4 separate regions of the Homo sapiens genome follow, and all the other regions are linked to region 1. The links come from fine-mapping of genetic effects on gene expression. A gene starts in region 1. Each other region holds a variant in brackets. All regions are shown on one strand. Distances are from middle to middle.

Region 1 (7,233 bases):
GCCTCATACACGCAGTCTCTGCCCCCTCACCTGCTTTCCCCATTGGCATGGGAGTCCCACCCCCAGGCCATTGCACAGGCCGTGTGCCTCACCAGGCTTGCCCTCCCCAGTGTCCTTCTCCCATTCTTCAGGAAGTGGCCCAGTCCTGCCTGCTGCAAAGATTGCCTGCCCCAGATCCCTAAGGGCCCTCCCTGAGCACTCATCTGGTCTTGTGCATGGCCTTTGGTGATGGCACCTTTTAGTGAAGTCTCCGATCTGCCTCCAATCCCAGGAGGGAGGCAGGGCCTAGATTTAATGGAAGATGAACCTGAAGTGCAGGGGTGTAGCATGGCTTGCCTAAGGCCACAAGACTGGCAAAGCCCAGCTAGAATCCTGGTCTTGGCCTCCAAACTCACCAGATGCCTGTGTGTGCCCCATGAGGACAGGGACCTTCTGCACCTCCATTTTGGAGAATTGTTTTGTAACAAAACCATTTCCCCTCTCTTGTCTCTGAATTCTCCTGTCCTGTGGCAGGTTTTTGCCTGTCCCAATTTTCTGCCTTACCCATTGCTCTCCTCTGCCCTTTGCTCAGACCTTTGCTCAGACCTGGGAGAACACACCTACACAGGGAAAGGCCCAGGATGGTCCCCTCAAGTTGCTTTGCAGGCCCAGAAGCTGCTCGTAGCACAGCGCTGGCCAATAGAACTTTCTGCGAGGATGTACAAGTTCTTTCTCTCTACTGTCCAGCTCCATAGTCCCTAGCTGCAGTGTCCACTGAGCACTTGAAACCAGGCTGTTGCAACAGACAAGCTAAAATTTAAATTTTATTTAATTTTAGTTAGTTTAAATATAATGAGTTGCATATGACTAGCAGTTACTGTATTGGACAGCCCAACCCTAGGGTGTCCCTCCAGGAGCACAGACAAGGCCCCCACAGATAAGGCCACTCACGCCATCCACCTGTGGGACAGCTCCCTTCCTCTGGCTCCAGCATCTTCCCCTATTGACCTCAGCCACCATTTCCAGTCACCCCTCTCTGACCCTACTTTTACCCCCATTCATTGTCCCCTCTGGCCTGCAGCAGCCTTCTGTTTTTGGCCTTACTGCTTTGCCAGCCGTAAGCACTCACTCTAGGGGCATAACTGCCTTCCTGAAAACCCTTCAATGGCTCCCCATTACTCTTATTTAGATCTAACTTTCTCTAAGGCCCCTCTTGACCTGGGCTGCCCGTCTCTCTCCAGCCACATCTCCTACTTCCTCACACTCCCAGTCCTCCGGGGTCCTGGACTTCCCCCAGTTCTCCCAATTCCCTCTGGCCCCCAGCCTCAAAGGCTGTTCCGTTTGTCCCCTTAGAACAAGGCTTCACACTCGCCCGCTTTTGCCTGGCAAACTCCTATTCATCCTTCAGCTCTTCATTTGAAAATCATTTCCCTAAGGAAGCCTGCCATGACTGCCACCACCATCAGACAATGTTGCATGTAATGCATTCCCCAGGCCCCTCTCTTTTTTCACTATTGTAGCTTTTTTTTTTTTTTTTTTTTTTTTTTTTTTTTTGCACACGACATGGTCACTGCCCATTTTCTTCTTTGTGCACTACTTCCCTGTATGTAAGTTTAGGAGGGCAAAAGTGTCTCCCACAATGCCTGACCCGCAGCAGGCTCTCAGTAAACATTTTCTGAATGAATGAATGAGAATAGGCCAAAAAAAAAAAAAGGTGGCAGGATACAGCGCAAAGAACATTGTATACAGGGCCAGGAGGCTGAGGTTCTAGTCCTGGGCCTCGCCATGTGACTCTGGGCTCAACTTCCCCATCTGAAAAATGGGGTTCAGTTCAGATGCTCTCTGGGATAACTTTCATATCTAGCAGTTGAAAAGATTGTATTCAGTAGGGTAAATATGGAGCTGCAGCTTGGAGGGAAGGAGTGAGCATGTCGGATACAATAGTTAGCCCCAAGGCCCCTAGAGTATGCGACTTGGCATGTCTAAGTCTGAAGCAGTGGAAGCAAGAAGCTAGAAAAGGCCAGGGCATGGTCAGGCCAGCAGGAAGGTCTGGGAAGGGGAAAGCATGGAGAGAGGGGCTGTGCTAAACCCTGAAAATCAGATGCTTATCCCTCAGCAGCCAGGACCCCCGAGATACCTGGAGGAGCTCTCACTGCCCTGACACCTTCTTCACCACCCAGCCAGTCTGGGCTCATTCTGCCTGAGCCCAGAGATGCTGCACCTCCACCCCAGGCCCAGGGAACCATGGACGGCCCGATGGAGTTCTCCGGATTCCCTGGAGCCTGGCAGGGCGTGGGAATGAGCTGACAGCAGCAGTCATGGGTGCACCACTAGCACCAGTACGCTTGCCCTGTGACCGCTCTCTCTGCTCTGGCCCTGCAATCTCCTCCTTGGCCACCCTGGAGAACTGCTCCAGCAGGTGCCAGCCTGGCAGGGGCAGCTGAGAAGAGCCTGGCTATAGGGAATAGGTACATCTTGCCAAAATGCTCACAGCACCCCACCCACCACAGTTAGAGCTGTGCTCCAGTGTTTGCTACATCAGCACTGTTTCGCATGTTCAGAGGGGTTGGAGCGTTTGTCCCAAGCTTCCAAGTAGCAGAGTGGGGATAAAAACCCAGGGTTGCTGGCCTCTACCACCGTGATCTTTACTGCTGCACACTCCCTCCAGCTAAGTAAGATATCCTCTCCCATTTCTTCCCCATGGAAACCTTCCATGGCCAGGACCTTCCATGGCCAGGACCTGCTCCAGGACCTCTTCCCAGACTGCTGCGGCCCCCACCTGCCTGTCCTCCTCTCTATCTGGGCCCTGAATCCCCTGTGCTGTCCAGATTCCCACAGATCATCAAGCCTCACCCTGTCAAGGCCCAGCCTTTCCTCTGGTGGCACAAAGAGGCTGCATGTCCCTCCTTCCTGGGGAGGGGACAGCCTTTTCCTGTATTCCGAAGATTGCCATAGCTACCTGACACGCTAGTAGTGTTTAATCTACTTGGATCAAAAAAATTTGGAGAATGGAAGAAAGCATCCTTTCTCCAGAAAAATAAGAAACCTGGTTTAGGAAAAAGAAGGTGTGGACTAATTTGTGGCCAAGGACAGCAGAGCCAGGCGACCCACACTTGGACCCTAGCGGCCTGGGCCAGTGAGCAGAGACCAGGGCACCACCCCCTGCAAGAACTGTCCCCTCTCCCCGCACCCCCCGGGTCCTTAAGGGGTGGAGGGGGAGGGCCATGGGGGCTCAGTAAGCCTCGGCCTGGGCCTCTGGGCGCGCTTGCCGCTGCGCGGGCGCGGGGCGGCTGTCACACCACCCTGGCCGGGTCCCGAAAGGGAGGAGTGGAGCTTGCCCGCCTCCGCGAGCCTCCGCGCGCCCAGCCTTCCTCCACCTGCCCGGCGTGCCCAGGGCGCTCCCAGCGCTGGAAGCCGGGGGCGCTTGCCCGAGGCGGGAGTCGCTGGGTCATGCTCTTGCCCACCAGGTCCTCCGAATCCCTGGTAGGGCAGCGTCTGTCCGTGTCCCCGACCCCTCCCGCAGGCAACTCGCGCGAACCTGGGGCTCGCAGAGAGCGAGCGCCCGCGGACACCGGCTGAACAGTCTGGAGGCTGCGCGAGGGGGCGCCGCGGGGAGGGATAAAAGCCAGCAACAAAGAGCACAGACCTCGTCCAGCAGTTGATTGACTCGTCCCAAAATAGCCGTCTCCATTTGCTGCTCCCCGCGCTCCGCTTCCAGGCGCAGCACCCGGGCCTGCAGCTCGGCCGTCCGAAAGTGGGCGAGCAGGCTGAGTGCCAGCGAGCAGAGGGCCAGCGTCAGCAGCCCGCACGACCCTGGACTCGGCAGCCGTGCGCCGCGCTCCGCCCGCGCCGCCACCAGAGCCACCGTCCCGGGCGCGCCCAACTCCCCAGGGCCGCGGGCACCGGTGGCTGCCGCTTTGTGGGTGCGCTCCGCTACCATCCTCTCGCGTCTTGAGAACCAATAAATAAATAAATAGAATAAATAAAGGCGACAGCCGCTGCCAAAAGGCTCTATCCAAACTGCGGGGCAGGGGGAAAGGGCTTGTATCGCTGGAAAACGTCCCTTTCCGCTGCTCCCGGCAAAGAGGACGGAAAAATTAGCAGTAGGAGAGGAAGTGCCGAAAAAGCACAACCAGCGGTAATTGGGGTACACCTAGGTGAGAAAAAAGTTATTTCGAAGAACGTTCCAAGTCCAGGAAAGTTAGGGGAATCTGACCGGCTCTCCTTCTCTCCGCCCAGTCTTTCCCTTCAAGTGTCTGCAGAGCAGTTGGTGCCGCGCTGTCAGTCCTTCTGGGCGCCTCGTGTCTCCCGGGCCAGTCAGTTTCAGTCCCCGGGCGAAGGGGCGCACACGGAGGGCCCCATGGGCAGAGGTGGGTCGTGGCGGCTGGCGAGGAGCGCAGGGGCCGATTCCGGCGCCTCTGTAACTTGACACACTCCCTGCGGCGGCACGGATCGGATGAGCAATCCGTGCTACTTCCCAAACTAATCTCTCCCTCCCCCCTCCCTCCTCCTCCTCCTCCTCGTCACTCCTCCTCCACCTCCCGCGGGGCCGACGGCTTGGATTTGTTTATTTATGCAAACTCGCCCAGGGTGGGGGGCGTGGTGAGCAGGTCCGGCGGCCCCAGCCCGCCGGCCCGGGAGCCCCTCTGCCGCGCTCCCCGTCCTCTTTGAAGTGACACTTGGGGTTATTTATAGGCAGGAAGGGGGTGTGGAGTGGAGCTGGCGCTGCACTTCCCTCTCTTTCTCCGGATTCACACCGAGGGCTCGTTTGGCCTTCCACGGAGGCGGTGAGGCGGGCACCACCTTCCATGGACGCGTTGGGGCAGGCACCACTCCACCTTTCCCAGCCCTTGAGACCCTCCAGGAACTCGACTGAGTTATTGTCAGGGCTTGTGGGTGGATCTCCACGTCCTGATCAGGACTACCTGATCCCTTCAGCCACCGCTCCTCTACTCCCAAGCCCCCAACCTCTTTCCCCTTCCTTCTCCCCCGACAACCGACTCCCCGGGGGCTCTGTACCTCCTGAGATCTGCAGCTCCTCCAGTGCCGGGCGGCCAACCACATCTTTACTCTGGGGTGAAAAGTCAGCCCTCCAGGGGGCAGCAGAGCTGGCAGCCCTTCCTCTCAGGACCAAGACCTGAGGTAGTATGAGACACTGAAAACGGAGGAGATCTTATTCCAGGTATCTGAGAGGTGGCTCATTGGGGCCGCCTGCCAGTCCTGACATCTCCCCTTCTTGCCTGCCATTAATCTGAGACCCATGCCATCTATCCCTGTGTGGTGAGACCAGCCTGCCTCAATCATCCCAGTCATCAAAGGTGAGCAATTCCTACACAAACTCAGGTTCCATCCCTGCGGGAGGCTTAGGGCTAACCAGGCTCTCTCCTGTTGTCATTTCCTATATTCCACTAGAGAAAAACTGGTGGCCTGAAGGGCATTTGGTAGTTTTCTCTCTTCTCTTGTCACCTCCTCCACCCCCCACATTAAGTAGCATTTGTATCCCAAGAGACTTTATCTCCTTGTGCCTGTTGACATTCCTGTGAATGAGGTGGTGGGACTGAGTTTTTGGGAGAAAGCCTGTCTTCCTGGAACAGCGGGCAGAGGAGAGTAGACTGGGTTTTCAAATATGCAGTGGAGGTGGGGGCAGCAGTGGTGCTGGGATTCCATTTCAAAATAACAAGGCATGCCAGTACAAACTTCCCATTTTCTATATTGACCTGATGGAACTTGATATATAATACAGTGTCACTGCACTTCTAATAAAGTGTGGCACACTTAATAGTGCATATTGGACTTGTAACATAGTAAGTACTGAGATCATATGTAATAAAGGTAACATTGACTGCTGGGCCAGTCAGCCACTATGGAGGACAACAGGAATAGAAGGCGATGCTGCTGAAAGAGCCCGTGGCCAGGAGCTCTGGGTTCCAGTTCCAGTTCTAGGATTCTCCTGATGGCTTCAGTGGCAAGGGCACTCTGTTTTCTCCATCCCTGTGATGGGATGTCCCAGTCCACTCTACAGAGGAATGAATCCTTGGGAGACTTGGATGGTATTGAAGAACACCAGGGGGCGTTGGAGAGTTTCTGCACTGGGAGGTACAGGCCAGGAAATTCAGGGACTTTGGACTTCCCCCACTCCCCTCCCAGGCTAGTCTGAATGGAGGAACTGAGGTGGGGAGTTAGTTTCATTCCCTCCTTATTCTGCAAACTGATCTTTTCCCTTTCAGGACTTTGGAGGCCCTCAGGAATGCTCAGGCAGTGAAATCTAAACAGTTTGGAGCTGGAGCATCCTTGTGATTGGGAACTGAAAGAGGAGGGTGTTGCGCTAGCCTGACCTGGCCCCAGCATTGCAAACCCTGGAGCTTCCAGGGGGACTCTGGAGTCAGAGAAACCTGGGTGTAAATCTCCCTTTTGTCAATGTGGAAGCTGCTGAACATCTCGGAGGCTCAGTTTTCTCATTTGTAAGATGGGCTGATAATAAAAGTATCTACCCGTCTGGAAGGACTGAATGAGGTAATGTATGTAAAGCAGTGAACACAGTGCTGGCACAGGGCAGGCACTCAATAAAGGGCATCGGCTCCTTCTTTGGAATTCATGGCTGCTAGGGCCATCTCAGACACAGCTAGCTCTGGGCTCCCAGTTGTGAAACAGGAAGAAGTTTCCATCCCAGAGAAAGCAAATGGATCACAGTTAACCTCCATTTTTTCCCTACCTGACAGCTGAGAGTAGCAGCTTGTGAGCAGCAGGAGTTAGCTTGTGTTGAGGGGCCTGATCCCCAGGTATCCCTCTTCTTCTTCCCACACTGCTTAGAATTCTTGCCCTGGGAGATTTTTCTTTCAGGTAGAGCATTGTCTACCCCAGGCACAAGTTACAGCCTCATGTGGCTTATCTTGAACCCTTCTTTCTTCATAGGTGGGGGCCAGGACCTGGGGACACTGAGGTGAAAAGAGTGCCTTCCAGGAGCTTTAAAAACAGTTGATTAAGGAAGACAAGTCATGTTCACATAAAACCGCCACAAAAGGCAGAATAGCGAAAATCCACAAAACATGTAAAGACCACAAAAGGTGCTTCAGGGCTCCCAGAAGAAAGGGGGGGGATTCAGATGCCTCAAGAAAAACACCAGGAAATAGATTTTCTTGTTTGCAGTAAGAAGAAAGAGGGCCTCCAATGCTAACCCAAAGACTTTGATTTTAAACTGTGGTCTTGGTTACACACCTAGACAAAAATGAAGAAAAAATGCCCCAGGCATACAGC
Region 2 (7,233 bases), 89 kb before region 1:
TCTGAGGCAGAAGAACTAAGTCCCTCCCTTGCCCCTGGCTAGCAGCAGGGAAGAAACTTCCATGGCCTGCCTGGAAGTGGCCCCAGGGAGCCTAGGGGTGGGGCTTCGCCTTATACCACTTGCCATAATGGCAGAGTCGGGAGTTATGCCCCATGCCTGGCGAAAGGTTGACCCTCTAGGCAGGCCCACCAGACAGCCCTGAACAGGAGCCACCGGATGGGAGCAGCCGGCACCATGGGGGTCCCAAGCCACCTTCTCTGAGCTGGGAGCGCCAGGCCCCTGTACCAGCGGCCCAAGGGCAAGCACAGCAGTGTCTCTATCAGAAATTCAACAAGACAGAGAGGGCAGGAGGCCAGGCCAGTGGTTTACAGGTTGATGCCTCTCAGAATCCCAGAGGCTCATGGAGGTGTCAGGGAACACCATGGAGTGACAGCTGGGAGGGGCCCAGAAAGAGGCTGAAGAGGGCCAGGCTCCAGGAGGACCCCTGGAAAGGATGTCACCCGGACCAGCCTCCAGGAGGACCCCTCACTCCAAGAAAAGGATGTCCCCTGGAGCGGTGTCAACCGAATCTATTATGCGGCACCTCGGGGGCTTTCCTGGTTCTGTCAATTAAAACTGAAGTTTGAAAATAACCATAATTGACCCCTTTCTACCAACTGGGAGGCCATTTCCTGAGATGGAGACTCTAGGAAACCTCCACTGCTCTTACCTTTTCTCCTTTTTGTCCCTGGGGTCCCTACAAAGAGACGGAGATGAGAGAGTTAGAAACCAAAGCTAAGGTCACAGCCACCGGAAGCTTCTCTGCTGGGAAATAGATGGATGAGGTACCAACCGGCTGTCCTGGGGGACCCGTCAGACCCTGTGGGAAGCAAACACACACAGGTCAGTGGGCAGACAGAAGACAGGCAATCAGGGACACCTGCCTGGGTGGGGATTGGGGCTGAATCCCGAAGGCTGGGCTCTACCAGCCATGGCCAGGTCTTCCCATGCCCACCACATTCAAGATGTCTTATTCACAGAGTCTCAGCTGCTTCACCCCCCAGTGGGCAGGACTAGGGCTGTGATGAAGAACAGATGGCATCTTTCATCCATTCCTCCAACCACCAGCATCTCATGGGCCAGCTATGGAGGGGCTCTACCTAGAGGTCAGGGAGTTTTCTGCTCCATGGGACCCCCTACCTCACATGCATCAAGCCTCTGGGAGACACTAGCACATTCCACCTCCTGCCTCCCAGGCTGCAGTGAAGCCCACTGAACCAGAAGAACTTCTGGCCTGGGGGTGCTGGGCCGGTGCCTCAGACAATGGGGGCCTTAGAGAAACCTTCAGCAAAAGAGAGAAAGCAGGAAGTTGGCAACTGAAGCCATGTTCTGGACTTCTCCAAGGAATATGAGGGGTCTTGAAGTTTCCTTCAAGGTTGTCTTGTCCATGCAGGGCTAGGAAAGGAGCTGGGGTTGGGAGGGACCCTTGCTGTCTGGGGAGGGCCCCGCATGCTCTGGCTCTCTTAGGAGGCTGCACCAAGGCTGGTGGAGGGAAGAGGAGAAAACAAATGCCTTATGGGCTGAGGATCCACCCTGAGGCTGGCTCTTCAGGTATGTGTCTGTGAGGGAGATGCTTGTGTCCACTCCAGCTCCCGAGTGAGGTGACAGAGACAAGGCCCCATGGCTCAGTGAAAGGTGGCACTGGGACAGGAGCCCAGGTTTGTCTGACGGCCAAGGTCCAGCTGTTTCCACTGCCAAATGCTCAGAACTGGGCCAGACCTTGGGAGTCAGGGCTTCTAGACTTGGCTAGAGCCATAAGCAGGTCCCTTTGAGCCACCAGTCTCTTTGGGGCCTGAAGCACTGCAGATCCCCAAGGGTGGGTCCATCTGGGAGGTGGCCGCAGCATGCTGTGATGTGCCAGAGCCTTGTTCCTGCTCCCCGCTTGCCAACAGGGCCACCTCCAAACTGGGAAACTCCCAAGAGCATCACTGGAAGGGAGAAGTGGCCTTTGGGACCATCCATGTGGCACTCCCAGCCCATGTGGCTGGCCAAGTGTTTATTGGTCTTTTATTGTTTTATTGAGACAGGGTCTCGCTCTGTTGTCCAGAATGGAGTACAGTGGTGTGATCTCCGCTCACTGCAGCCTCTGCCTCCTGGGTTCAGGCAGTCCTCCCACCTCTGCCTCACAAATAGCTAGGTCTACAGGCACACACTACCGTGCTTGGCTAACTCTTGCATTTTTTTGTAGAGACAGGGTTTTGCCATGTTGCCCAGGCTGCTCTCAAACTCCCAGACTCAAGCAATCTGCCCGTGCTGGCCTCCCAGAGTTCTGGGATTACAGGTGTGAGCCACCGCGCTCGGCCTGGCAGAGTGCTTAGAATGAAGTTCTGCAGCACATGATTCATCCGGCAGGGAACCCGGGCCCAGACCACAGGTGACCAGGTCATCCTCTGTCAGGACAGAGATATAAGTGTGATGGGGGAGGGGCAGGCGGAGTTTCAGGACTGCAGAGACTTGGACAATTGAAACCAGACATCCCAAACGGTGGCCCAGGGGACAATCGTGGTCTTCATAGGGATTTTGTTTGTCCCACATGGTTTTATTTCAACTAGTTGCCAATACTTAAGAGAGCAAGCAGAGTGCAAATAAAAATTTGGATTTCAAGTTTCTCTTAATTATGTCGAGGTCCAACAACACATGGTACCAGTTATCTTCAGCCAGGCAGCACCTGCCCCTTTAAGGGCCATGGCCACCGGTGATGTGCTTAGCACTTGCCAGCAGGCCTGTGCTAACCGCCACTGAGGCATAGCTAAGGCGCCTGTCTGCTTCTCGGGTGCCAAGCATGTTCTGAGTGCCTGGCGCTCCTCACTCGACAGCCCTGTGGGTGGTGGGTGAGATTTGGACTCAGTCCAGGCCTTGCTTTACAGCCCTTATGTCATTCCTGAGTCTCAGACCCCCAATCTTGTCCACCCCCCAACTACACTATTATACAACTGTGTCCTCCCAACACTTCAACACCTTATTTCAGGTTCTTGGGAATAATGTGAAGTGGGGGGGTGGGGCAGAGGTGACTCCCTTTTGAGAGGTGAGGACACAGGTTAAACAATGAGGGTGAGTGCCAGTGCCCCAGTGGGACGCCAGTGGAGGGGACAGCATCTGGGGCAGGAGACAGACAGATGAAGAGCAGGGCAAGGTAATGATGCTGGACAGCGGTGGGCAACTAACAGCTCGGGTACCCATGCCAAGCCAAACAGGAATCAGATGCTCTGTGGCCTGCTGGATTTGATGAGGCAGACAGGGGATCTATCCCACTGATGTGGGCTCA[C/T]GAGAGAGGGGGTGGGCCTGCCTTTTCTGTTGAGTTAGCTCTGATCCCTGGACAGGCGGTCAAGTGTGTGGGGCAGAGGGACGGTGTGGCAGAATGAGGGCAGGAAAAGCGGCCCCATGGAAGGGTCCCTTTCCTCCAGGACAAAGTGCTGGCTGCTGAGAGGAGGTGTGATCGAGGGGTAAGACTCCACTGCATGGGTCTGAATCTCAGCTGTTGTATTTAGGAGCTTTGTGGCCTCAGGCAATGTACTTAGCCACTCTGTGCCTCAATTTCCCCTCTCATGAAGTGGGGATGATAAGCTGTTATGAGGATGACAGAGTGCTGCCTAGAGGATGACCATTATTATTACTTCTGGGGGGCCATGGGCTGCCTTACGGTAGCATAAGGCTGCCAGAGAGGGAAAGAAGCTCAGGCTGAAGGGATGAGCACCCCAAGCCCTTTATGCCTCTATAACAATGTGGCATGGCAGTTTCTTCCTGCCTCGGTCTCCACTACTCCATGCATGTGCACAGCATGCCTGGGAATGGGGTAGGGGCGGGGGGAAATGCATTTGCAGCGGAGGCAGCTGTGATGGAGAGGAAACCTTGCTGGGGAACCTGGATTCCAGCGCCAGCTCTTCTGCCACTGCCTCCAGGGCCTTCTGCCTCCAGTGCCCTTCCTCCGGTTCTGCAGACATGTCAAGGATTTTCCTACCTCAGGACCTTTGCACGTGCTATTCTCCCATGTCCAGAAAGCACATTCCCATCCCCCTTTCTATTTTCTCTCGGTTGAATGCTCATTCTTCAGGCACTAGTTCAAAAGTCTCTTTCTCAGAAAAGCCGTCTCCGACCTTTGGCCTGGGTGAGGTTTTTGTTATACCAAGATTTCCAGGGCACTAAGGATTATCTTTTTATAGCACTCATTGCAAAGCAACTTGTTAGTTATGTGAGTGATCATTTAAAAGGATGTCTCCCTACTAGACTGTGAGCTACAGATGGCAAGAACAGTCTCTCTCTTGCTCCCGTCTGTATCCCTAGCACCTGAAGCAGTGCCCAGCACATTTTAGATACTCCATAAAAAATGCATTAAAAGAAGGAAGGTGGCAGGAAGGCTGACAAAGAGTGAGGGAAACAGAAAGGGAGGAAGGTAATAAAACCTTAATAAAAAAAGGGAGGGAAGGAATTTGAGAACTGTGTTTCGATCTTGTTTTGGACATTCAGCTGTGTGACTTCAGGCAAGTTAGTTAGACTCTCTGAGCCTTGGTTTCCACACCTGTCAAAGGGGATTCTAGCAAGACCTGGAGCACAGAGTTACGCTGAGGATTGAGACAGTCATGCAAAGTGCTTAGCCCAGTGCCAACCACGTGGCAAACCCTCAATAAATATTAGTTGGATCTGAGTCAAGAGGACAGGTTGGGGCCCAGAGGGAGCTGGCAAGTTAGGAAGAGCTAGGCTGGAGCCCAGGCCTTGCAGCCAACACTCCACCATCCCCCTTTCCACCCACATGATTACCTGCCTCCCTCCATGCCCTGGCAGTGCCCCAGTCATGGGTCAAGGGTTGTCTTCACACCAGCGCTTGGAGCAAGGCATGAGCCAGGCCCCCACTGAACAGGGACAGGGGGAGCCTGCTGCGTTGCTTTCACCACCCTGCACAAATTCCTGGCCCACCAACCTGTGGAGCAGGAGGTGGTCCCTCACAGTAGGTGCGACCTGGATCTTAGGAGGCAGAAATGCACCCCAGCCCAGGGCTGTTTTGTTTGTCTGTCTGTTTGTTTGTTTTTTTAAAGCAGGGATTTATTGAAAACCAAAATACACTCCACAGTGTGGGAGCAGGGGCCCATTAGCTCTTAATGGCCCATCAGTCCCTGCTGAGATCTGGCCCACCGTGAGAGTGCGCAGCCCCTCATTCCCTTCTGGAAGGGATGGTCTGTGGAGACAGAAAATTTATTTCCAAAGCTCTGCAGAAGGTAGGGGCCAGGAGAAAGCTGGGCCAAATGTTGTCTCTCCACCTTTTTGGGGCCTGAGGCACTCCAGGTACCCTGGGCAGATCCATCTGGGTGGTGGCCGCGGGATGCTGTGACATGGAAGAGAAGACCTTGCTCCTGCTCCTGACTTGCCAAGTGGCCCAACCTCCAAACAGAAACTCCCAGGAAGGGAGAGGGGAAGGGGCCTTTGGGATGATGCATGTGGCACCCCCAGCTGAGATGATCCACTGGGCACCACCAGCCCCAGTGGGGCAGGAACCCCTGGAGTCCTGGGGTGGCTCAGGGCACAGCCAGCACCCGGAAGGGGTTATGAGGCCTTGAGGGACCTCAGGCTCAGTAGAAATGGTGTCTCCTAGAGAAAGTGTCCCCTGTGAGTGCAGATGAAACCTTGTCTCCCAAGGCCCATGCGAGTGTGGTTTGAGAGCAGTAAGCTGGACACCGACCTCTGTGTGCTACCAGCCAGGTGTGCACTCTCTCTGGATCTCCCATCCTCATGCTTCAGATGGAGAAGCCCCTGCCCATTTCTCCTCCCTGCATATTGATGTGAGGATCCAGGGCATGTGGTTTACACAGCTGGGGAGTGACCAGCATGGACAGCCATTCCTGTTGTCCCTGTGGGACCCACTTTGCAGTGCTTGGCTGTGCCTGTGAGGCTGGGCCAACCCCCACCCATCTCGGGAAGGCAGGAAAGCTGGGCTCTTACCATGTCGCCCTTTGGTCCTGGGTGGCCCTGGAAGGAGAAGAGGGTGAGTACCAGGTGCACTGTTCGCAGCCCAGAAGTTCCACCCTCTGTCCTTCATGCTCCTCCCTGCCCCCTGTGCTCCTCCCTGCCCCCCGTGCTCCTCCCTGTCCCCTGTGCTCCATCTGCACCTTCTGGCTTGTGCACTCCTTCACCCAGTCCCTAAGGCAAGGTCATTTGCTCACTGCCCCTCGCTGGGCCTCACTAGCAGCTGCCTGCCCTTCAGAGAGCAGGGGTGGGGGTAGTCTCCCTAGACCCCAACGCTCATGCCATTCACATGTCCAGGGTAGCTTCGGGGGATGCCTGGTCCCGTGACATGAGTGGAAATGATTGCTGGCACCCCTGGGCTGCACTTAGCTCGCTGGCCTGCAGTTGGGGAGTAACTGGGTGGTGCTAGGGTCCCTCAACTGAGAGAGGCGAGTGGCGGGGCCAGGCATGGCTGTGAGTGGGGCTGCATTCCGTCCACCCTGAGGGCTTTGGATGGGTCATGCTCCCTTCCAGCTGACTTGCTCCTAGGACTGGGGAGGGGACTCCTTTCTCCCATGAACATTTGTGTCAGGGAACCAAGTCCAAAGGATTGAAATGAACGAAGAGAGGAGCTATGGTGGGAAGCAGTCTCCACGTGGACTTGAGCACACGTGTGGGGTCTCAATCGGGGAGGGAGACCCTGACCTCGAGGACAGGGCCATGGGAGACACAGGTGCTGGGGAGCAGGGGCAAGCGTGTGCATGAGTGGCCAGGCTCTTCAGACCAGCTATTTGACCTCCGTACCCTCCACTCTCCTCACTGCCTCCTGATCTCACCCCCACCCCACCCAGAATCACCCATTCTAGGGATGGCTCTCGCCTGGACTTCGAAAGCCAAGCTCAGCAGCTGGGGACCTGTGCCCTGGGGAAGGCCACTGGGGTCAGGGGTGACTCAAATGGCCCCCTCCACTTCCCACTAGTGACAACCTTCAGCCCCAGGACTTTTCTTTCTAAGTAAAGCATTTTCCAAGGATTCAATATCTTGCAGAATGACCAAGAGATCCAGGATCACTGACCTGCAGTGAGGGGAGAGAGCGGGTCCACTTACCGGTTTGCCGTCCAGCCCAATGGGACCCTGAAACCAGAAAGGCCAGATGTAAAGACTGAGCATCACAGGACTCCTGCCAAAGAGGCTGCCTGGGCAGTGGGGAAAAGCACAGATTCTGGATTCTGATAAGTTGGAGCTCAAGGCCCTGCTTGA
Region 3 (7,233 bases), 64 kb before region 1:
CAGCCTGGGCAATATAGCAAAACCCCGTCTCTAAAAAAAAAAAAAAATTAAAAAAATTAGCCAGGTGTGGGGGCATACGCCTGTAGTCCTAGCTACTTGGGAGGCTGAGGCAGGAGGGCCACTTGAGCCCATGAGATTGAGGCTTCAGTGAGCTTTGATCGCACCACTGCTCCCCAGCCTGGGTGAGAGAGTGAGACCCTGCCTCTCACTCTCTCACCCAAAAAAGTTTTTTCTTTTCTTTTCTAAAAAAGAAAAAAAAATTAAAGGTTTGCAAAACACCTTTGGGCATCATCTAGGGAAGCCTTATGCTTTTAGGATTAAATGAATTAATATATCCTAAGTAAAAAAAATATATATATACAGTACACACACATACACACATATACCTTACAACATCCATATGAAGCAGACACCATTACTGTTCTAATTTTACAGATGAGGGGACTGAGGCAGAGAGAGGTTAAGTGACTTGCTAAGGTTACACAGCAAAAAGTGGCAGTGCCAGGATTTGATTGCAGTTGGTCTGGCCCCAGAGCCCATGCTCATAATCACTATGTTACACTGCCTCCATAAAAACATAACAGTGTCTAACACACAGTAAGTGTTAGCTACTATTTCAGCAAGGATCATATTCAGCAAGGCCTGGCAGCTGCTGGCAAATATTTCCCTATATTCCTTCAGAGAAAGATACATCCCTACTTCCCTTGGTCATCTGTTTTCAGTCTCATAGTTCCCAGTATTAGGAAATTCTCCCTTAAATTGAATCCAGGGATGGCCAATAGATGTCAGCTTGAGCACTGATGCCAATGGATTGGGAGTAACTGACTAATGCATTATGTTAAAAAGCCTCCTAATTGATTAGCAATGTCTGCCAGGGGCATGATGGGTGGGGCAGTGGTAGCTGAAAATTTACTTCCACCTAAATGGTTCCTGCTGCAGCTTTAATCCATCCTGCACAGTTATGTTCTTCAGGCACTGGCCGACCTTGTGCCCGCAGAAATCTGGGTCTTCCTGTTGGAGGACAGAGCCAGCCCCCAGGATACACCCAGACGGCATCAGACAGGCATCTCAGAGCCCCTCTCTCTGGCCACCAGCATTCTTCTTTTGCAGGAAGCAGAGATAACAGGGCTGAGGAGGTGATTCCTGCCCTGGCCAGCTTCCCATTTCCTCCTCCTCCTGCCTTGTGGTTTCAGCCAGCACTGGGCAAAGGTTCAGGGCTCCTCTTCTGAGCTGGGCTCAGAATGTGGGGAAAGCTACCTGGGCCTTTCTTCTTCACTCTGTGGGCAGAGACTGAGTGAAGACTCATCCCCTCCACCTCATGGGCTCCTTCAGCACAGACCCAAAGGGGTCTGGGAACAGTCCCTGGGTCGGGCCAGCACAAGCTCTCAGAATGCAAAATTCCTACTGAGGAAAGGACCCTCAAGTCAGGCAGGGACTCAGAGCTGTCCTGGCATCCTGGCCCTGGGGGTGAGGTGTGTGCAGGAGGCTGCAGCATCCTGCCCCTGGGGGTGAGGTGTGTGCAGGAGGCCCCAAGGCAGGGTGGGGGCAGTTGAGGGCTCTTGTGGCTTCCTCAGAATGAGACAGGGAAAAGCAGCACATTTCCCACAGGTGAAAGCTCTATATGGCAGAGTTTATTTTGGAAGATGGATGATAGGAATTAAGATCTGACACACCAAACGTGCCATAATACATTATCCTTCCTTTCAAGTAATGACATGACAGGTCCTGCCTCACTGTGATGTGTCAGGGGCCATGGGATCCTCAGTGTGGGTGCAAGGGCCTTTCAGGGCACAAATGGAGTCTTCGATAATGGCCTTTACTAAAAATGAAGCAGGCGGCTCCCACAGGTACACATCAAGAGGAAAACAACTATGGAAATGACTTCTCCAAGGAAGGGATGATGATAGGGTTGATTTCAGCAACCTTGAGAAAGATCTGATGCGAGGGCTGGGCCCTTTCAATTCCTATCTCCAGCTCCCCCAGCGCCCTCTGGTCTTTTGTTGGGATATCAAAGGCAGGTGCTCCTGTTCTCTGGATCCATTACTTGAGGGAGGCAGTCTCCTTGGGCTCTTCTCAGGTTCTCTGGAAGTGGCTCCACTCCCTGCCCCACCCTGGGCTTCCTAGCAAGGCCAGGAAGGAGTGCGGCATGATGCCTATAATTTATGTGCTGTCTCCCAGTCTAACCGGCTGACACCGCTCTCTCTTACATAACCATTGCCGCCGCCACCACCACCACCTGCCCAAAGTGGCCAGAATGGAGCTGCCCCACTCAGGGGTGTGGATGTGAGTCCCCTGGAGCAGACCATGCTTGCAGCCAGCTCGATGACCTGTTTTCTGGGACCTTTCAAGGGGCAGAACTGAGGAGAGATGATTTCTTTTCTTCTAATACCTGGTGCTTTTTTTTTTTTTTTTTTTTGACTCCAATAGCTTCTTTGGGGACAAAGGAACTGAGCTAATTAGAGGGAAAGCCACTCTTTCATATTGAAATTTGGGGCCTGCTTTGCCCTGGGGGCAGCCATTGTCTTGCCCTGGAGGGGTGCAGAAGTGGGTGAAAAGCAAAATGGTAGCCTCCTCCCCACAAGAGGCATTCTGGAGGGACCCCTCAGGAGCCTGCATAGGCCCCCAACAAGACAGCAGGGGCCCAGCTTTCAGTGCCCCCACCCAGAACCCCGTTACCAGCAGGTGACACAGGCCTTTCAGATGCACGAGACCCTCGGCTTGAGTACTTACAGGAGGTCCTGAAAGAGAGAGAGAAAATGCCTGGGTCAGTGTCATTGCTGTAGGGGGCGGTGGGGAGGCCGCCTTGGAAGCAGTGTCCAAGGATTCATCAGCGGAGGGGTTTCCATCTGGTCTTCGAAGTTTGTCTTTTCCTGGCCTACTTTCACCAATATAATCTCTTCCCCCTTTATTTCATCTCCATATTTTCATAATTGGATGAGAAATCCAGAGGTCTAGGCCCCAGGCTCAGCCCTGCTGGGGACCTGCCGGTGGCCCTTCTGCCTCAGTTTCCCACCCCACAAAACGGGCTCTACGGGACCTGCCTGAACTTGTGTACAAGGCTGCTTTGCAGAACACGGGACAGTGGGCAGCGAGGCACACTGAGAAAGGCGGAAATAACAGATCCCGTAGAGATGAGGACCGTTAGCATGCCCGTGTCCTCACTGTGCACGTCAGGGAGGGCCAGCAGGCAGGCAGGGGCGGGCGTGGATGGCCACTGTGCACCCTGCCTGAGGCCCATTGGCCCGTCCTGGTTTCTGTTTAGCAGTGAGTTAGGCACTTCACCCCTCCAGGGTCTGCCACCCACAGCCTCTTTCTCAAAGCCCCCTCTCGGGCTCCGGCCCCACCCTCCTCCATGCCTCTCTCTGTTCCTTTCTCTTTCTGGTGTCCACTCCCCACCTCCCTCCCACGGCCGCAGCAGCAGCCCTATCTCATTACTGGCAACAGCCAAGAATGACAAATTCAAGTGTTCCGAGAGGGAGAAAAAAGGAATAGGGGTGGGGAGCGGGAGGGAAGGTTTAGAAAAGCAGTCCCAGAAAGATAGGGAAGGAAAGGCGCTTCTGCGGAACATGAGCCACGAAACCCCACCCTCCCGGTGATTCCCAGCTGGGCCTGGTGTGTCTGCCCGGCCCCTAGTGCCCTGGCCACGTTAACTCAGCTGCGACTCCTGTTGCTTCTTTTATGCTCGGCCAATAAAGGCTCCTATGTTTCCCCGTGCTCCTCCCATTCCCAGAGCCGGCTTCCTTCTCTCCTCCTTTATCTGTCGGCTTCTCTGCCCTGGTCACCATCCAGGAGGAAACAGCCTCTTTCATGCTGGCCTCTGTCAAGCCATCACGTTAAGGAGGAACACAGTGTTTTAGATTAAAAGCAACAGAAAAAGTCAAGAGGTGTAGAGCCTGGGTGAGCAAGCCCCAGGCC[C/T]GGGCCTTGCATGCAGGGCCCAGAACAAGCGGGAGGGAGCACAGAGCAGGGGGAGCATCTGGGAGCCATTAGGCTGAGTGGCAGAGGAATGTCACCCAGAATCTGAAAATATCCCCTGAGCGCAGCCTGCCAGAGGGGCCAGCTTAGCTGGGAAATCTGTGCCTCCTGGCTGGGGGAGATGTCCTCTGCATGAGAAGCAGGCTGGTGACAAAATTCAGCCTGTGGCAATTTTGGGATGCTTCAGCCACATGGAGGGCAGATGCCTTGCGCCTGCCAGGCCTGACGGGGCCCTGGCTCCCACTGTGGCAGGCTCTGGTGATGCCCCCAGTGACACAGGCTAGAGCTCTGAGATGTCCCCAGTGACACAGACTGGAGCTCTGAGGGCAGCCCGGCCTGTTGTTAGCACTCTCGGCTGCATAGGTGTCACCAGATGCAGCCAGGTAGCTGGCACAAGACTCAAGGCTCAGCTGGGTAGCAGGAGGAGCAGTTTGCTGGGTGCACCCCTGGAGGATATAAATTCTACTGAAGATTTTGAGGGTTTTTACATCACCACCACTGCCACCACCATTGTCACTGCATACACCTCTATGGTCCTTATTAGGTGCCAGGCACAATTCGAGGGGTTTTCCATTATGCAATAGGTTCTATCATTCCCGCCTTGCGGATGAAGAAACTGAGGCATGGGAAGGTTGAGCGACTCCCCAGGGCCATGCAGCTAGTAAATGGTAGAGCTCTGGACCCTTCTCTACAGTGCCTCTCTCTCTGTCTCTCATTCAGAAAGCAACCTACCCCCCACCCTGCAATTGCCTGCAGACCAAGTCCTCTCCAGACCTGCCCCTGGGATGCCTGTTATGGTCAGCCTCCAGCCCCCTTCTCTAGACTCAACCCTCTCATCTGTCTTTTACAGGCACCTTTGTCTTATGCAAGGGAATTTGGCTCTTCCAAGCTCAGCCAGGCTGCCACTACCCATACCTGTCCCCTACAGGGATTTCAGAAACAGGAAAATCCTCTTTGTGAGCTAATGCTGTGCCATAGAAGGGGAAGAGCTATACAGGTGCTATAAAAGAAGACTTTCTCTCTCACACACCTTTTTTCCCCTGTTAGGGATGGTCTTCATGAGACCCACTGGAAAATCTTCAGGTGCCTTGGAAAACCCAACTCCCGTCCTGCCCCTGCCAATTTTCATCAAACAGGCCTGCATTGGGACAGCCCTGGGTTTCCAAGCAGATGCTTCCCCTGATGCTGTGTTCAATGCCTGGCAGCTCTAAGATGCTGGGGAGCTGATGGCTTTGCAAAATCTAGCAGTGCCTTGATGTCACTAGTTGCTCTCCCATGTGGGCCACTTGGCTGTGCCCATTACCCTGGCCAGGCACCAAAGGATGGAGTCACTCCAAGGCATTACCAAGTCCCCACAGTACAGATGGAGAGAGAGAGGCCCAGGGAGATTCATGACCATCCAGGGCCATGTTGTGGGCAGGTGATGGCGGTGAGACCGGCATTCAGTCTCCTGACTCCCCATCCTGGGGTCTTCCTAACAGAGCACACCATATCTCATGCTGATCCTGCTGAGGTACTGCCCGTACTACCACATTTTGAGAGAGGAGGAAGACACCTGGACTCCGCCCATGCACCTGCTGCTTCCTCAGGAGGAACCTGTTTCTTGCAGCAGGGAGAACTATGAAGATTGTCCCAGCCCCCTCAGGTGGGCTAAGCAGCCCGCAAGCAGGGCTGTCAGGAGAGGGTCACAACAGCCATCCAGGGTGGGGACATTCTGCCTGAGACCTCCCTGCTGATGTCTGTCACGCACTGCCTCAGCTTCCTGCTGAGGCCACTACCGTTCTCCGCCGGGGTTTGACCCACCTCTTCCGAGCAAGGCGGCCATGCTTCCCCAAAATGGACACATAGGGATGGACCCCCATGAAGAATTCTGGGGTAGCATTCTGGGTCGTGCCCTTTTTCAACCACTTTTTGTATGTTCGTTCATTCAACAAACACTTAACAATGCCTACTGTGTGAGTCACTGTGCTGGGCTGTGGCTCTCTAAAGATGAATAAAGTATACTCATTGTCCTCTGAGGAAGGAAAACTTCATTTTTTTAAGCATTTATTATCTACCAGGCCTGATGCAAAGCTCTGATGATACAGAGATGAATAACTCATTTCCTCCCGCTGAGAAGCCAACAGTTTCCTATGTTAGAAAGCTGGAGAAATTCCAGTGATGAGAACTAAAACAAACATGAGGGTTTAAGGGAGAAAGGTTTGCTGTAGGAGGATTCATTTTTTCATTCCTTCATTCATTCAATCGACATTTACTGAGTGCTCATTATGCGGCAGACATAGACACAGTGCTAAGCATGGTAACTATAACACCGCACTTTGTCTTTATAACAACCTTGTGAAGTTGGCATTATCACCCCTTCCATAGACTTGGAACCTGAGGCTTAGAGGTTAAGCAACCTGCCTAAGGTGGTCACCTTGCTCTTAGATGATGGCATCTGATTCTTAAGGTTAAAAAATTTTAATTTAATTTAATTTAATTTATTATTATTTTTTGAGATAGTATCTCACTCCGTTGCCCAGGCTGGAGTACAGTGGTGCAATCACGGCTCACTACAGCCTCAGCCTCCCTGGGCTCAGGCAATCTTCCCACCTCAGCCTCCCGAGTAGCTGAGACCACACACCACACCTGGCTAATTTCTGTATTTTTTGTAAGGATGGAGTTTCACTATGTTGCCCAGGCTGGTCTCAAACTCCTGAGCTCAAGCTATCTGCCTGCCTCGGGCTCCCAAAGTGCTGGGATTATACACATGAGTCACCATGCCTGGCTTAAGTTGATTGTTTAACTTTTATTTCCATATGGTAGGGCCTGGATTTGAATTTGGTCTCTCTTGCTGCAAAGCCTGTGTTCTCCTGGCTGGAGGTCATGAAGTTCTCAGGGGTGGAAGGGGCGGCTGGGCCCTCAGCCCCTTCTAAAGTGGTCAGGTAAGTCCCCTCCCCCTCGACCCTGGACTTGGTGCCACCCAGTCGCTGGATCCAGTCCTGGTCCTGGACAGGGGGCATCAAGAGTGGCAGGGTGCTCCCAAGTTCAGTGTCATCTGAACCATCTTCTGACCCTGCTTGACCGCTGGGCTCCTAGAAGCTGGGGTCCTAGCCCCCACCCATGCCTCCTGGTGCCTGCAGCTGACCACCTGCCACCAGCTCTGCCACATGCCCGACCCACCCATCTCTGCCAGGACAGGTGCTGTGCATCACGGGCTCCCCTCAGACCTTGGGTGACTAATGATATTGGTTACACTCTGCCTGCTGGAGCAGGGGTTCT
Region 4 (7,233 bases), 36 kb before region 1:
TTGGGGAGGCCCCACAACCCTGGCAGAAGGTGAAAGGCACGTCTTAATGTGGCGGCAGGCGAGAGAGAAATGAGAATCAAGTGAAAGGGGTTTCCCCTTATGAAAGCTTCAGATCTCACGAGACTTATTCATTACCACGAGAGCAGTATGGGGGAAACCACCCCCATGAGTCAATCATCTCCCACCAGGTCCCTCTCACAACACGTGGGAATTATGGGAGCTACAATTCAAGATGAGATTTGAGTGGGGACACAGTGAAACCATATCAGCTAGTCTGAGCTTTCATAATACCAGTCTGGTTAGGTCATGGTCCTGCTCAATACTTTTTGGTGGCTCCCCACTGCTCTTAGGATAAAGATGAAAGCCTTAACGTGGTCCATAAAGCCCTGCATATTCCAGCTGAATCTCATCTCATACCAGTCTCTGTCCCGAAGCTCCCTGCCCAGGCCACACTGCTCCTGCCTCAGTTCCTCATCCTCCCTTCCCACTGCAGGGTCTCTGCCCTTGCTGTTCCCTTGCCTGGAACACTTTCCCTGCCCTTTACCTGGTCAATTCCTACTCCCTTGCCAGATCTCTCTGCTCAAGGACGCTTGAGGATTTTTTTTCTAGTTTCTCATGAAACCTTGCATTGCCTTTTGGTGGAGCTGATCGCTATTGCAATTTTATATTTGCTGGGGCAATTGGTGGAGGCTGCCTCCCTGACTGAACCGTAAGTCATGTCTTGCTCACCCTCGGGTTACCAGCACCTAGCAAAGGCATGGCATGGAGTGAGTGCTCAGTAATATGTGTTGAATGATACATGAATGATGCTGTGATTTTGTGCATGGCAATTCCATTCTCTGAGCCTGACACCTTAAATGATTATTGAAGAGCATTTATTCCGTGCCAGGTGCTGGGAAGACACAGAGCTAACTGTCCAGAGGGGAGACAGATGTGAAACTAGTCCCTGATGATGCAGTGGGATAGGTTTATGCTTGGAGGCTGGGCTGGCTCTAAGGAAGCTTTCGGCAGTGGCAGGTGACCTGAAATTGGGGAGGTGGGGGCAGGGGTGGGAATCAGGGATGGCTATCTAGGAGTTTACAACTAAGGCCAAATCGGAAGGGTAAGGGAGAGTTAACAGGCAAAGGTGGAGATGAGGGGGTTCCTGGCAGAGGGAAGAGCAGGGGCAGAGGCCTGGTGATGAGAGCCCTGCTCCTAAGCCCCAGGCTGGCTGTGCTGCAGGGAGTCCAGGGAAGTGGGGCAGGGGGGCAGTGGGGAGGGATGGGGCCCGATGGGGTGTGCTGGACATGGTCGTGAAGGCACTGGCGCCACTGCAGGGTTTCAGGCGGAGGGGTGACAGAGGAGTGTCCTCCTGAGTGACAGAAAAGGACTAGATGGGGCAGAGCCTGGGGCCCCTTCCAGCTCTGGCGCCCGGGGTTCTGAGAGCCAGGGGGCAGGGGAACGCTGGGTTGGATTAGGATGGTTCCCGACTCTGTTGCCAGCAGAAGCCTCAAGAGACCAGTTTTCCTCCCTGACGTCAACTTAAAGGTCACACAGATCCCAGGTTTCCTCTCAGGGGCCTTTGAGGGCCCCTCATTTTGTTCTTTTACCCAGATCCCTCAGGAATCCCATGACATTCCCAGCCTGGACCACCTCTCAGGGTAATGAGTCCCCTGAGGTCCTAAGTTGCTGTGAGAAGCAGGACTTCCTTTAATTTGTCCTAAACTTACCTCACTCAAGTTTCAAAGGGGGCCCCATCATCCCAGTATTTCAGGATTTAGTGAGCAAGGAAATGCACTGTGAAGCTGCTGAGGTGGGGAGGGGAACTCAGGACATCTGACTCCAGAGGGCCCCCCTCAGCCAGGCAGACAGGCCACAGGCTCTGCCTCCTCCATCCAGCCCCTCTTGCTCCTAAGCTGGTGAAGTGGAAGGGGAACCAGCAATTCAACAAACTGCTCACTCTAGCAAGTGGACTCCACGCTGGGGGACACGCAACTTAAAGGACCCCGAGTCACCGAGTCACCGGGCTCCTTCGATGCCGCTGTCTGTCCCTCCAGCCCTGTCCCCATCTCTCCAGGAAACCTGCCCCTGACCCCCAGCACCTGGGCTAAGCATTCTGCAGCTCCAGCAGCTTCACAGCCCAGCCCAGTCAACAGCTCAAGTCAAGAAGCCTTCAGCTCTGCCTGGTTTCTCTCCATCTCTCACCCGACAGCCAGCCCATCAGCAAGGCCTGCTAGCGTCACCTCTAGCACATACCCAAAATCTGCACACTCTCCCCATTTCCTCTGTCACCACTGCCTCTCACCTGGACACCGCAATTGTCCAGGACACCTATTGGCTCCTCTCCACTCTGCCTTTGTAATCCATTCTCTGCCGGTGCCAAGAGGACTGGAAAATGTAGCCCAGAGCCGGTGGCTCCCCCTCCTAAAACCTTCCTGTGGCTTCCTGGCTCATTGAGGGTGAAATGTACAAATACCACAGGCCAGAGTCACACGAGGCGCCACAGGACTGGCCCGCGCCCTCCCTGAGCTCTCTCTCTGCTCTCTCCCTGTCACTCATTTCACCTGGCCACACTCTGACCTTTCTCTTCTTCAGACACACCAAGCTCATTCCGACCTCAGGGATTTTGCACCGGCTTTTGCTGCTAACCAGCATGCTCATTCCCCAACCTCTGATTTAATTCTTTAATCAATTTATCTCATGGACACTCTTCTAGTGCTTTATGCTGTGACAAGTTCAGGCACAGCACTTCTCATGCTCAGGATCATCTGTTAGCTCTGCGTGGTGGGCTCCCCTTGTCATTCAGATGTCACCTTCTCACAGATAACACTGCCCCCCACAATGCCCTATCGAAAATATCCCCTGGATCACATGGTCAGCCTTAAATATATACAGTTTTTAATTGTCAATTATACCTCAGTAAAGTGGGCCGTGGGGGGAATCCTTTAAAATTGTCTTAATTTATTTTCTTCATAACAATCAGTGGATATTTTCTTGTTAATTTCCTTATGTGCTTATTTTGTTGATTTCTCTCATTACACTGGAAGCAGGAAGAGGTCAAGACCTCTGTCAGGTTGGTCCTCATATCACTAGAGCTCGGTGCCACTGCACATGGCAAGCGCTTCACAAGTATTTGTTGAACGAACGAA[C/T]GAACGAATGAATGAATGAATGGGTCACCTCTCCCCTGGAGGCTTCCAAGACCATCGCATTCTCCAAATACCATAGCTGACACATCCAGATTGCAGGATATAACTGGTGAAATATTTCCTGTGGACACTGTTCAGAGGCCCAATCAGGGGATGGGTTTCTAGAGACAGGGTCAGGTCTTGTCCATTATTGTGTAAATGCAAAAATAACAACTGGCACGTGTGTAGCAAATAGCAATCCACTTCGCACTTTCAATGGGGCTTCACACGCAGGAACTCACTGGCTTCGCCAAGCTACTCAGTGAGGCTGTCTCAGGCTCATTTTACAAAATGGGAGCTGAGGCCCAGAGACTCAGGGCCACACAGTGTGCACAGAAGCCACGCCTCACCCCATTTCCCAAGGTGGATCTGAACCCTTTGTACAAAGGCCTGTATATACCTGCATGCCTGGCGCTCTGTATACAGCAGGGGCTTAGTGGAGGTAGCAGCATTTGCTGCAGTCAAAAAGCAGCTTAGAGGAGCCCCTGTCTGAATAAATTCCTCTGGCAAGGGCCGGTCCCCAAGGTAGTGGTGTTTCAGAGGCTCAGGAGGAAGGGCAATGTGGGTGGTCAAGAGAGTCCTGGCCTGCGGTTCAGGAGAGCTGAGTACCAGCAGCTCAATACCACTGATTAAACTCCTCCCCATGCCAGGTACTGTACCACGTGCTTTACATACATCTCCTTCATCTCAGGACAGCATGGAGGTAGAGGTTGTCATGATCCCTATCTTAGAGGTAAGAAAGCTGCAGCTCAGAGATGTCAAGTCACTTGCCCATTGTAACACAGTTGGATCCCAGAACTCAGCCAGCAGATAATCCTGCCACTTTGTTAGTCTAGGTGTTTCCAGCATTGGCTGGGTGACCCTAGAAGAACCCCTTGCCTTCTCTCGGCCTTAGGCTCTGTCTCTAAAGCCCAGGCTCCTACCAGATCCTGTCTAGGCCTGTATAGCTTTGACACAAGTGGGACCGGGAAGGCACAAGGCTGTGGCTGCTGCTGTCTCCTGTGGCCCCTTGAGGAGGGGGCTGCCTGGATGCCTTGGAGCAGGCGCAGACCTTGCCCTGCCCAAGGCACTGTGGGTGGAATGTCCAGGGGTGACCAACCCACAGGGCCCTGGCCTCCTGTGTTCACTGGGTGACAAGACCAGGATGGCCACAGCACTGGAGAAGGGCTGGGAGATCTTGGAGCTTCCCAAGATTGAGAAAGTGGCTCGTCACATCACAGGGGGCTTTTAAGGTGGGCAAATGCTCTGAGGAACATCCAGCCCCACTACAGTGCCACTAAAATGAACATCAGAAATTGGCCCCAGCTTCAGCTTCCTTTGGATAATGAAATCTGTCTTCTTCTCTGCGTTTATTTATTTATTTGGCAGGATCGCCGTTCCACGGGAACATGATCCCACTGCCTTAAGGGGCCACTCCACAAGGGGGACAACATGGAGGATGATGAAGCAGGAGGGTCAAGGCCCACTTCCAGCTCCCCAGGGATTCTGCCACCCTCCACAGAAGTGAGGAGAAGAGGCAGTGGGAAAATGTACCAGGGTAAGCGCAGAAGAGGCTGGATCTGACTTCATCCCTAGAAATAGTTGTGTGGTGGGTGGTGGCTTCAGGGTCCAATCAGTTTCTGTGGCAGCATCTTTTGCTGTCTTTTAATGAACAGCAGGGGTGTCACCTGTCAGGAAGGACAGGCTGTCTAATGGACAGATGAATCCGGAACCAGGTGCCCAGCTTGGCTGTAGCTCTTGGCCTCAGAAGGCGTCAGGAGTCTGTGGCATTGGCTGACACACCAGTGCCTCTGAGTGCCAATGAGCAAAGAATGATACAGCTGGAGCTGATGTGGTCAAGCATTTGGAACTAGAACCGTACAGAGACCCACCAATCAGAACCGACACCAGCCAGGATCATTGGTAAGGTCCCCCATGGGATGCTGATGGGGCCTCATTGTCCAGATTCCCGAACACCCCGAGGGAAAGTAAGTTCTTTGTTGAGAAGGACTCACATCCAGGTTCTAAGCCTATAGGAAAATGAAGAGGACATTCAGGCTGTCAAAGCTCTTGGGCCCTGGGCACCCTGGAGCCGGAGCCCTGGCATGGAGACCCCTCCATGACCACAAACAGGCAGGTCTCGGGAACACACGGCACAGCTGCCCAGTACCTGCTGCCCCTGGGAGGTTGGGACCCGCCCCACCCTCCCTCCGGCCTGTCATGGTATGCCAGGTCACCCCGTGACAGCTCACATAACTACATGGGAAGCTGGCATCCACTTATACCCCCACCGCCTGCTGGGCATCTTTCTGTGGCAGGCATTTCCTCCCCAGTTGGGGTTTAAAGAGGAAGGCAGGCACTGAGGGAGCCTCTGCCCATACTTGGTCCTCATTCTAGCTCCAGGAGGCTCCCCAGGGTCTCCATGAGGCTGAGGAGCCAGCCTGCCAAGGATGTAGCTCTGTGTGCCCCAGGTTTGCCCATCTCCAGCTCTTGTCAGCCACACACCTTGCCTACTGGAGACATTCCAACAGTGCCCTGCCTGGTGTACCTGCCACACAGACAGATGGCAAAGGCTGGAGGGGTGGGAGGAAGTGAGTTTGTGAAGTGAGCTGGAAAGAGAATGAGCAGCTGGAGCTCTGACCCTCCCCTCCCTCCCCTGCTTATATGTGCATAGCCAGCTCCCCTTTGCATGGTAGGAGGGCCTCTCACCAGGAAGCCGAGTCAGCTGAGCTCTGGGGTCCCTTCTGAGTCCCAGATCTGATGTCTCAGGGCCAAATGCCAGCTGCACAAGCCACCAACAGTGTGGTTCTAGACCTGTGTCCCTGCCTTGGCCCCGCCTTGATTGGGGCCGGCCTCCCAGGGCTGGAATCCTGGAGGATGCGGCCCTGGGACTGTAGCCCACACTGGGCACCGCCTAGCCCCACCGGAGCCCTGGGTCTCTGCAGCAGCCACTGAGTTACCCGTGTGTTTCCCCTTCCTGGACTGTGGGCTCTTCTCTGTCTCCTGAGGATGGGGCATGGCACAGAACCAGTGCTCAAAAACTGTTTGGTGGGGAGTGAGGGAGTGAGAGAGAGAGATAGCTAGAGGTTGGCAGGGGGAGCTTCTGATGCTGCTCTGGTTTGCCCAGACTCAGACTACTTAAATTCTGGCTTCAACACACACTAGCTCTGTGGCCTTGGCCCCGTTACAGAACTTCTTTGGGCCCCAGTCTTCTATGGAAATGGAGATAATAATAGTACCTGCCACATAAAGTAATTATGAGGATCAAATGAGACAATGCAATAAAGTGCTTATCACAGTGCCAGGCGCAGAGTAAGCCCTTAATAGATGTTGTTGTTATCATTACTAATTAATGTCCTCCAGCCTTATCTGACTCCATGCTCCCTGGACAAGCATCACGGCCACTGCCGAGTCCTCGGTTTCCCACTGTGCTCCAGGGTAGCACTTGGGTCCCTGGGGGGCATTTGCCTTCTGATGTTTCAGAGCTTATTTCCAGTCCCAACCCTGCCACTGCCTAACCCTGTATCCTCGAGCAAAGAATTCTGAGCTTCAGGGTCCTCATCAGGAGAATAGGGCAGTGTGAGTCGTAACCTGGAGAGCTGGTGGGAGGGTGCAGTGAAGAGGGCCAGGTGTGTGGGGACAAGAGTGCCACTGCCAGCAGAGGCCACCCAAGTCGCCTTAGTGGCTGAACAGGAACTTGCCAGGGAGTAACAGGGGAGAGGCTGGCTGGGTTATGACAAGAGTGGGGGTAGTCATCGAGGGAGTGGGCAGCCTGGGTGGGTCCAGGAGGAAGAGCCAGGGACTGCATCCATGGGTCTGGCATGTCCCACCTTCTAGTCTCTTATAACTGCCCAAGCAGAGGTCGCGGGCTCTTCCCACTTGCTGCTCCTTTCCTCCAAAGGAGCATCTGGCATTCCTTTAGCGTCACTGTGGCAGAACCTTCTCCTTCAGGGCAGAGCAGGTGGTGGCAAGATCAAGGGACCCTCCACTGGGTCTAGGGCAGGGAGCTCATCTGCCCCCAGCAGCCTGGGACAAGCTGCACAGCACCCATGTGTGCTGCGGGCAGGATTGTGAGTCCTGGGTGAAGGGG

What was found.
Region 2: its variant is fine-mapped to the expression of COL13A1 in cerebellum (GTEx, PIP 0.94).
Region 3: its variant is fine-mapped to the expression of COL13A1 in spleen (GTEx, PIP above 0.99).
Region 4: its variant is fine-mapped to the expression of COL13A1 in whole blood (TOPMed, PIP above 0.99).

Annotation. Positions count from the first base shown.
Region 1 is chr10:69,799,110-69,806,342 of GRCh38, reverse strand. It overlaps COL13A1 (collagen type XIII alpha 1 chain), which reads right to left and starts at 4,437. Exons shown (of 41, transcript NM_001368882.1): 1 at 3,626-4,437. The coding sequence starts at 3,919. LOC124902444 (a long non-coding RNA gene) reads left to right here and starts at 4,572. Exons shown (of 2, transcript XR_007062179.1): 1 at 4,572-5,297; 2 at 6,207-6,480.
Region 2 is chr10:69,888,178-69,895,410 of GRCh38, reverse strand. COL13A1 (collagen type XIII alpha 1 chain) reads right to left here. Exons shown (of 41, transcript NM_001368882.1): 9 at 7,081-7,107; 10 at 5,971-5,997; 11 at 833-859; 12 at 710-736. Among named protein-coding and RNA genes, the nearest start is that of COL13A1, 90 kb to the right of the region's middle. The variant C/T (reference allele first, on the strand shown) is at 3,305.
Region 3 is chr10:69,863,303-69,870,535 of GRCh38, reverse strand. It overlaps COL13A1 (collagen type XIII alpha 1 chain), which reads right to left. Exons shown (of 41, transcript NM_001368882.1): 3 at 2,731-2,738. Among named protein-coding and RNA genes, the nearest start is that of COL13A1, 65 kb to the right of the region's middle. RefSeq lists enhancers at 1,712-2,695, 2,696-3,679. The variant C/T (reference allele first, on the strand shown) is at 3,916.
Region 4 is chr10:69,835,082-69,842,314 of GRCh38, reverse strand. All of the region lies in intron 2 of COL13A1 (collagen type XIII alpha 1 chain), which reads right to left. Among named protein-coding and RNA genes, the nearest start is that of COL13A1, 37 kb to the right of the region's middle. The variant C/T (reference allele first, on the strand shown) is at 3,129.